Linked DNA regions of Homo sapiens: region 2 is linked to region 1. The links come from fine-mapping of genetic effects on gene expression. Tissue or cell type: cerebellar hemisphere. Region 1 holds a variant in brackets; the other region holds the start of a gene. All regions are shown on one strand. Distances are between the middles of the regions. Region 1 overlaps FBXO7 (F-box protein 7). Region 2 holds the start of SYN3 (synapsin III).

Region 1 (4,391 bases):
TAAGATAGTACCTTATGAAAAGAATATATTGTATTGTTTCATAAGGTACTATTCTAATGTCTCTATAACAAAAACTGCAAGGTGGAGCAGCAAGTGCTGATGGAAAAGCTGCTGCAAGTTATCCAGAAGATGTAGCTAAAATCACTGATGAAGGTGGCTGCATTACACAACAGATTTTCAGTGTAGGTGAGACAGCTTTCTATTGGAAGAAGACGCCATCTATTTCATAGCTAGAGAGAAGTAGTCAGTGCCCAGCTTCAAAGGACAGGCTGACTCTTTTGTTAGGGGCTAATGCAGTTGGTGATTTTTGAAGCCAGTGCTTGTTGACCATTCTGAAAATCCTAGGGCCCTTAACAATTATGCTAAATCAGGCCGGGTGTGGTGGCTCACGCCTGTAATCCCAGCACTTTGGGAGGCCGAAGTGGGCGGATCACCTGAGGTCAGGAGTTGGAGACCATCTTGGCTAACACGGTGAAACCCTGTCTCTACTAAAAATACAAAAAATTAGCCGGATGTGGTGGTGTGGACCTGTAATCCCAGCTACTCAGGAGGCTGAGGCAGGAGAATCGCTTGAACCCAGGAGGTGGAGGTTGCAGTGAGCCAAGATCGCTCCATTGCACTCCAGCCCAGGAGACAGTGTGAGACTCTGTCTCAAAAAACAAACAAAAAAACAACAAAAAAAGGAATTATGCTAAATCTGTGCCTTTGCTCTGTAAATGGAACAACAAAGCCTGGATGACAGTACATCATTTATGGCATGGTTTACTGAATATTTCAAGTCCACTATTGAGGCCTACTGCTTATAAAAAATACTCCTTTTAAAATACTACTGCTCATTGACAATGCAGCCAGTCATCCCAGAGCTCTGATGGAGATGTTCAAGGAGATTAACGTTTTCATGTCAGCAAACAACTGCATTCTGAAGCTCATGGATCAAGGAATAATTTTGACTTTGAATCTTATTATTTAAGAAATACATTTTGTCAGGCCATAGTTGCCAGAGATGGTGATTCCTCTGATGGATCTGGACAAAGGAAATTGAAAACCTTTTGGAAAGGATTTAGCCTTCTAGATGCCATTAAGCATACTGAGGATTCATGGGGGAGATAAAAATATCAACAGGAGTTTGGAAGTTGATTCCAATCCTCGTGGATGACTTTGAGGGGTTCAAGACTTCAGTGGAGGAAGTGCAGATGTGATGGACCTAGCAAGAGAGCTAGAATTAGAAGTGGAGCCTGAAGATGGGACTGAATTGCTGCAGTCTCACAGTCAAACTTGAATGGATGAGAACTTGCTTCTTACGGATAAAGAGAGAAAGTGGTTTCTTTTTTTAAAAAAATGTCAATAGTTTTTGGGGTACAGGTGGTTTTTGGTTGCATAGATGAGTTCTTTAGTGGTGATTTCTGAGATTTTAGTGCACCCGTCACCCAAGCAGTGTACAACTGTACCCAATATGTAGTCTTTTAGCCGTCACCTCCCTCCCAGCCTTTCCCCCTAAGTCCCCAAAGTCCATTATGTCATTCTTATGCCTTTGCATCCTCATAGGTTAGGTCTCACAAGATTTGGTTTTCCATTCTAGAGTTACTTCACTTAAAATAATGGCCTCCAGCTGCATCCAAGTTGCTGCAAAAGACATTATTTCATTCCTTTTTATGGCTGAGTAGTATTCCATGGTGTATATATGCCACATTTTCTTTATCAGTGGTTTCTTGGAATGGAATCTATTCCTGGACAACAAAGGATTTCGAATATTACATAAATTTAGTTGACAAAACAGAAGCAAGGTTTGAGAAGGTTGACTCTGATTTTGAAAGTTTTACTGTGGGTAAAATGCCATCAAACAGCATCGCATGTACAGAGAAATCTTTCATGAAAGGAAGAGTGAGTCAATGTGACAAACTTCACTGTTGTATTATTTTAAGAAATTGCCACAGCCACTTCAGCCTTTAGCAACCAGCACCCTGATCTGTCAGCAGCAACGAACATGGAGGCAAGACCCTCTATTAGCAAAAAGATTGCAACTTGCTAAAGGCTCAGGTGATTGTTAGCATATTTTTAAATTAAGGTATGTACATTGTCTTTTTAGATACAATGCTATTGCACACTTACTATAGTGTAAACATAGCATAGCATTTATATACACTGGGAAACCAAAAAAATTTGTGTGACTTGGTTTATTGCATTGGTTTGGGACTAAATCCACAATATG[T/G]CTGAGGTGTGCCTATAGATCTTTACTATGAAAGCAAATTAGAACTAAAGGGAAACATCCAGATCACTTACCTTATCTTGTTCTTTTATTTTTCTTTTTTCTACAGCTGTACAGGAAGAGGCACATACAAAGAAAAGAATCCCCGAAAGGGCGGTTTGTGATGCTCCTGCCATCGTCAACTCACACCATTCCATTCTATCCCAACCCCTTGCACCCTAGGCCATTTCCTAGCTCCCGCCTTCCTCCAGGAATTATCGGGGGTGAATATGACCAAAGACCAACACTTCCCTATGTTGGAGACCCAATCAGTTCACTCATTCCTGGTCCTGGGGAGACGCCCAGCCAGTTTCCTCCACTGAGACCACGCTTTGATCCAGTTGGCCCACTTCCAGGACCTAACCCCATCTTGCCAGGGCGAGGCGGCCCCAATGACAGATTTCCCTTTAGACCCAGCAGGGGTCGGCCAACTGATGGCCGGCTGTCATTCATGTGATTGATTTGTAATTTCATTTCTGGAGCTCCATTTGTTTTTGTTTCTAAACTACAGATGTCAACTCCTTGGGGTGCTGATCTCGAGTGTTATTTTCTGATTGTGGTGTTGAGAGTTGCACTCCCAGAAACCTTTTAAGAGATACATTTATAGCCCTAGGGGTGGTATGACCCAAAGGTTCCTCTGTGACAAGGTTGGCCTTGGGAATAGTTGGCTGCCAATCTCCCTGCTCTTGGTTCTCCTCTAGATTGAAGTTTGTTTTCTGATGCTGTTCTTACCAGATTAAAAAAAAGTGTAAATTACATGGTGGTCTTGACTTTTATTACAGAAAGATATGTAGTAAATATTCAGAACAGATACACAATGTTACTTGGACATTTCAGAATTATCAGAGAACATAGCATAGGCAGATAATTTTTGTAAGGGTTTTCTGTTTGTTTGTTTTTTTTTTTTTTAGCAGCGCTCTGTCTTCTAATAAAGGCCTGATTTATGAAATGAATGAAAACAGAGCTAGTTTGGTTGAACTGGACTTGGGGTGGGTGCTTTGGCTACACACCTACTCAAATCCACCTCTTCTCTCGACTTCTCTCTCTCTGCAGCTCTTTCTTGGGTTCTGTGGTGGAACTTTCTGGGCTGTGAAGCAATGCTGTTGAAAGGCCATTTGGTATTAGGGACTCCTGTTTGTGGCTCCTGGGATGAGGTGGTTATGATTTTGTTTTCCTTGTGTTTTGAACACTTAGCCCCTAATTTGTAACTTAAGTAGAAGATACCTTTTTAAAAAGTTTTACTGCTTTGAGTGCTAATCAGGTACTTGTTCTTCAAAGATAGCCTTTTATTTGAAGAACATTTTGCTTTTCAGACTTAAATACACAAAATTCAAGATTTATTTTTTCTACAAGAAAAAGGCCAAACACAAATGACTTACACAAACAACTGTAGAAACATGCTATAGTGACAATCTGATTCACAACATAGGAATAAAACACTACTAGCATCTACAGAAAATAGGAATATTGCCAATGTCTTCCTGCTTTTTTAAAAATTCTGTTTTGCATATAAGGAAATGGCTTGGAATGTTATGTGCTGCAAGAATATTTTGAGTCCTACATACAAGTGAATTTTTTTTTTTGCTACACATGTATATTGAGGTTTTTTTTTTTTATCACAGTGAAGAAAATGCAGTGAATAATACGATTTTCTTGAGGCCTGTTACTTTTAGTAGCTTAATGTGTAGTAAAGAATTGGAGTTGTTGACATTTCTTTCTGTGGTATTTTGTAATTTCTGAGCTACAGGATAGCCTTTTAAAAATGTGTTCACTAGATGCCATATGGCTTTAATTGGGTCTAACAAGGTCCTCCTGAAGCTTTGTTGGGTCCATATACTAGTTCTCTGATACATTTCTTTGTGGCTTTGCAATGTTATGTTGCACTATGCAGGGGATGTGTGTATGTGTGTAGTGGGCGTGGGAGGACATGGTGACGACCAGAAGCACCAAATACTATAAAACAACAAGTGTTCAGAATGCAGGCTTTTTTGAGTGGCCCTTGAGAACTCCATGGATGGTGCTGGTGTCCTGTGGATACTGGTGCTGCTTTCCATCCTCACCTCTGACTAACTTGCAGACATTACAGATCTCACTTAGTTTAGGATATCAGCAGTGGCCTAAACCTAAATTTGCAGATCTCTCACAA
Region 2 (4,391 bases), 560 kb after region 1:
CCAAGACCAAGACACTCATGACTTCCCCATGTCCAGCTGCCAGAGTGTTGGTTACCCCAGCTCCCAGGTGAGTCCCTAGTCAGGAACTGTCCTGCTGAAGGGACATCCTAGCTCCCTCCCTAGGACCAGCCTGCACCCACTGGCTGATCAACATTAAGCTTCAAAGGCCTCGTCTCTTTGTCTCATGGGAGGGATTGAGACCTCTCTTGCACTGCACCATAGATCAACATCTCCCTCTGCCCAGTTCTGCTTCCCTTATCTGCACAAAAATCTCAGAAGCGCCAAGTCTTTTTCCAGGGAACCCAAACCATGACAGGTGAGTACAATGATTTCCTTTTAAATCAGAAAAAGAAGGTTCATGAAGGTTGCTAATGTCCCCAAAGCCTATGGCTAAAGTGACTTTCTGGTCTGATTTCCCAGCGAGCCCTTGTTCTTTCTACTACACCAATCTACACACAGCCTTGCCTCCAATGGCTGAGACTGGATCTCTGTGAAACAGAAAGGGGAGCCCAGGCAGAGGGGAAGGGCACACAGAGGGCTTGAAGATGAGAAAAGAAGAGCAGAGGCACCCTTCAGAGGCCTGATGACAAGACTGAGGTCACAGGCTCCAGAAACAATATCAAAATGATGTGCAGGCTGCAGAAGCAAGCATTACACGGGCAGCATCTCTTTGCCTGAATCCATGTCCAGAAGCCAGGGAGCAGGGCTCCCGGGCAGAGGGGGCTCCCTTAAGCAGGGAAGAGTATTTGCAGCCAAGGACCAGAAAACAACTACAACTTACCAGCTTTCTGATGCTCCGGCCTCCATCCATTGTCCCCAGAGCTGCCAGAGGGACCTGATCACTGATCAGAATTCTTCCACGGCCCTCCTTCATTCCAGGATAAAATTCTAAATATTCTAAGGCTGCACTTTAAGGTCTGTGCAGGTTTTAGCTTCCTGCCATGTCGAGAGCTCATTTCCTACCTACAGCAAGACCCGGTCCTACTCCATTATCTGCTGTAGAATTATCTGATGTGCTAGGTCAGGACACCGGACCTTTTCAGTTTCTTTACCTTTACACAAGAAAACCCACCTGGAATTCCTGCTCCCTATCAACTCACAGTCCCAACACACTTTTCAGCCTGGCAAAACCTCCGACTTCCAGTCAATGCTCACCTCCTCTCTGAAACCTTCCTGGCTTCCTCACCGTCCTCTTCTCCATCTCGAGTCTTCCGCACTACCCTGCACTGCAATTGCTCCTCCTACTGTCCCTCTTAGCCCCAGAAGCTCCCCAAAGGCCATTCTTCATGCTGCTAGGGCTTGGCACAGTTCCTGGCACTCAGAAAAAGCCAAGTAAGTGCTGGATAGATACACGAGGTGCTGTATCCATAGCTATTCTCTGCTTCTAGCTTGGCCAGGAAACCACTCTGAAATTTCATCCTGCCCCCAGGATGACTGGAAATCGGAAATGGCATGACAAACCTGACCTCCCAAACCCAAGGCAACAGGTCATGAGGGGTCTGGGGACCTAAGGCAGGTCCTAGGAGCCGGCGCAGAGCAGAGGTCCGGCCGCTGCGGTTCCTGGTTTCCCGCAAGCTCTTCCCCGGGCCGGGCGCTGGGTGGAGGCAGTCTTAGGATCCACAGTCTTGCGCGCCCCCGGCTCCCGGGCCCGGCAGACGGCCCCCGCACGCCGATCTGTCTGTCCCAGGGACCGGCCCAGGGCCCCGGCAGCGGCAGCCTGGGGAGACACCGTGGTGCGCGGCTCCTTGCCTCCCTCCCTGCCCCTCCGTGCGCCCGCATCCCGCGGACACAGAGCCGGAGCTCCAGGGGACGCAGCCCGACGCGAGAACGCACCAGCAGCCCCCGCTCGAGGTGGGGTCTCCCGGCTGTCAGAAACCCCACAAAGTCTACTTTGCGGCGCCGCGCCGCTTACCGTGCGAGCCGCCAGGAACTCGGCGCCCGGTGGTGCCTCGGCGCGGCGCCCGCCAGTCGATCCGCTCCGGGTCCCGGGAGCTCAGCCTCTGCCCCTCAACGCGCGCGAGCGCCCCCGCCCGGCGGCCCGGCCTCCCCGCGCCGCGGCGCCCCATTGGCTCGGGCAACGAGGCCCCCGGACGGCCCCGCCCACCCGCGCCCACTCCCTCGCCCACGCCTCTCCCCAACGCCTTGCTGGGTTCACCTCTCCAGGCAGGGAAAGTTGCTTCTAGACTCTGAGCTCTCACCGGACTCAGGAGCCCAGTTAGCTAATAATTCTGGGTCCCAGGAGTGTCTAGACGCCCCTCGGGGAGTGCGAAGAATGCAGTGTCCTTGGAATCCACCTTTGGGAAAGTCAGCTGACCTCCCGGACCTCAGGTGGCACCTCAGAGAAACCAGGGCCCCTTGTCAGGAAATGTCCCAGGTTGTGGGCTAGGCCCTAGGGCCAGGATGCAACAGGGAACAAGACAAAGTCTATCGTCCTCGTGGACTTTGCATGGGGTGGAGGTGGGGGTAGGTTATATACAACAAACGAAAAAAACAAGAGAATGTCGGCTGGGTGCCTGTGGCTCACGCCTGTAATCCCAGCACTTTGGGAGGCCGAGGCAGGTGAATCACGAGGTCGGGAGTTCAAGACCAGCCTGGCCAAGATGATAAAACCCCGTCTCTACTAAAAATACAAAAATTAGCTGGGCATGGTGGCCCTCACCTGTAGTCCTAGCTACTCGGGAGGCTGAGGCAGAATTGCTTGGACCCGGGAGGTGGAAGTTACAGTAAGCCGAGTTAGAGCCACTGCACTCCAGCCTGGGCAACAGAGCTAGATGCCGTCTCCAAAAAAAAGAAAAGAAAAAGAAAGGGGTCTAGGACTGCTATACCTAGGGTGGTCTCCGGGCCGCTTGTGATATTGGATACTTGGAGGACAAAAACGATTCCAGGGCTGAAGCAAGAGCATTGCTGACAGAGGGGTCGGCCGATGCATGGTTCTGAAGCTGGAACTGGCCCCCAGGGTGGCTGAGTGAGGTGAGCAAGGGGAGAGTGGGTTACAGCCAGAGAGGTAGACTAGTGTGGAATCACCATCACCCAGAACCTTGTAGGCCACCGTGAGGGTCAGGGCTTTGTCATATCAATCTGGAGGGAACAATTCAGGCAAGAGATTATGGTGATGAAGACCAGGGTGGTGACAGCAAGATACGGAAAAGGTGGACCTCCTGCAATGTGTGTCAAAAGTAGCACAGGAAGGCTTGATGATGGATTAGGCTGGATTTAGGGGATGCTATGGTTTAAATATGTTCCCCAAAGTTCATATCTTGGAAACTTAATCCCCAATGCAACAGTGTTGAGAGGTGGGACCTTTAAGAGGTGATTCCATTAATGCCAGGAGTGGCCCTCTCCCCACCCCTCTGCTGCTCTCTTGTTCTGCCTTGTGCCATGGGGTGACTCAGCATGAAGGCCCTTACCAGATGCAGCCCCTCAATCTTGGACTTCCCAGCCTCCAGAGCCATGAGCTAAATAAATTGTTGTTCCTTATAAATTACCCAGTCTGTGATATTCTGTTATATTGGCACAAAATAGACTATGACAGGGGTTGACGTAAAGGGATGAAAGAAGAAAATCTCCTAGGTGTTTAGCTTGAGCCACTGTGGAGTAATGGTACTATTTCCAAGATCGGGAAGGTTCTTACCCAGCATCTTCCACTTACTGCATGAGCGTTAGTACATGATCTCAGTAACTAAGAGGGAGTGACTCTAACCTCAGTAACTAAGAGGGCATAAGACTAGCTGAAGGATCACAAACTTTAATACCGACGTGGCCGGGTAGTCATGTACTAAGTGAGGTTGGCAGGGTATAATAGAAAGGAGGGATGGGGCTTGTGACAGACTGAGGTATGCACACCTGCCTAAGGTGACAGTCACTGCTCAGCTCCAACTGATTTTTGCCATATGTGAATGGAGACCCACCCAGAGTTGCCAGATGTTCTGTTTTTTGTTTGTTTGTTTTTTATCGAGACTGAGTCCTGCTCTGTCACCCAGGCTAGAGTGCAGTGGTGCGATCTCAGCTCACCGCAACCTCCGCCTCCCTGGTTCAAGCAATTCTCCTGCCTCCCAAGCAGCTGGAATTACAGGCGCCCACCACCACGTCTGGCTAATTTGTGTATTTTTAGTAGAGACAGGGTTTCACCATGTTGGCCAGACTGGTCTCGAACTTCTAACCTCGTGATCTGCCCACCTTGGCCTCCCAAAGTGCTGGGATTATAGGCGTGAGCCACCACACCAGACCCTGATTTTTATTAAGAGGCCAGAAATTCAGATTATGTTAAATCTCTGGTTTTTTTAAATGCTGGTAATTAACTACAACTTTTTTTTTTTTTTTTTCTGAGACGGAGTCTCGCTCTGTCGCCCAGGCTGGATTGCAGTGGATTGTCGAGATTGCAGTGGTGCAAT

What was found. PIP is the estimated chance that this variant, and not a neighbour inherited with it, causes the effect.
Region 2: it holds the start of SYN3, and the variant in region 1 is the best candidate, but not a certain one, in a credible set for the expression of SYN3 in cerebellar hemisphere (GTEx, PIP 0.55).

The regions. Positions count from the first base shown.
Region 1 is chr22:32,495,829-32,500,219 of GRCh38, forward strand. FBXO7 (F-box protein 7) reads left to right here. Exons shown (of 9, transcript NM_012179.4): 9 at 2,316-3,001. The coding sequence ends at 2,702. Among named protein-coding and RNA genes, the nearest start is that of FBXO7, 23 kb to the left of the region's middle. RefSeq lists an enhancer at 3,177-3,346 and a cis regulatory region at 3,262. The variant T/G (reference allele first, on the strand shown) is at 2,210.
Region 2 is chr22:33,056,380-33,060,770 of GRCh38, forward strand. It overlaps SYN3 (synapsin III), which reads right to left and starts at 2,002. Exons shown (of 14, transcript NM_003490.4): 1 at 1,913-2,002.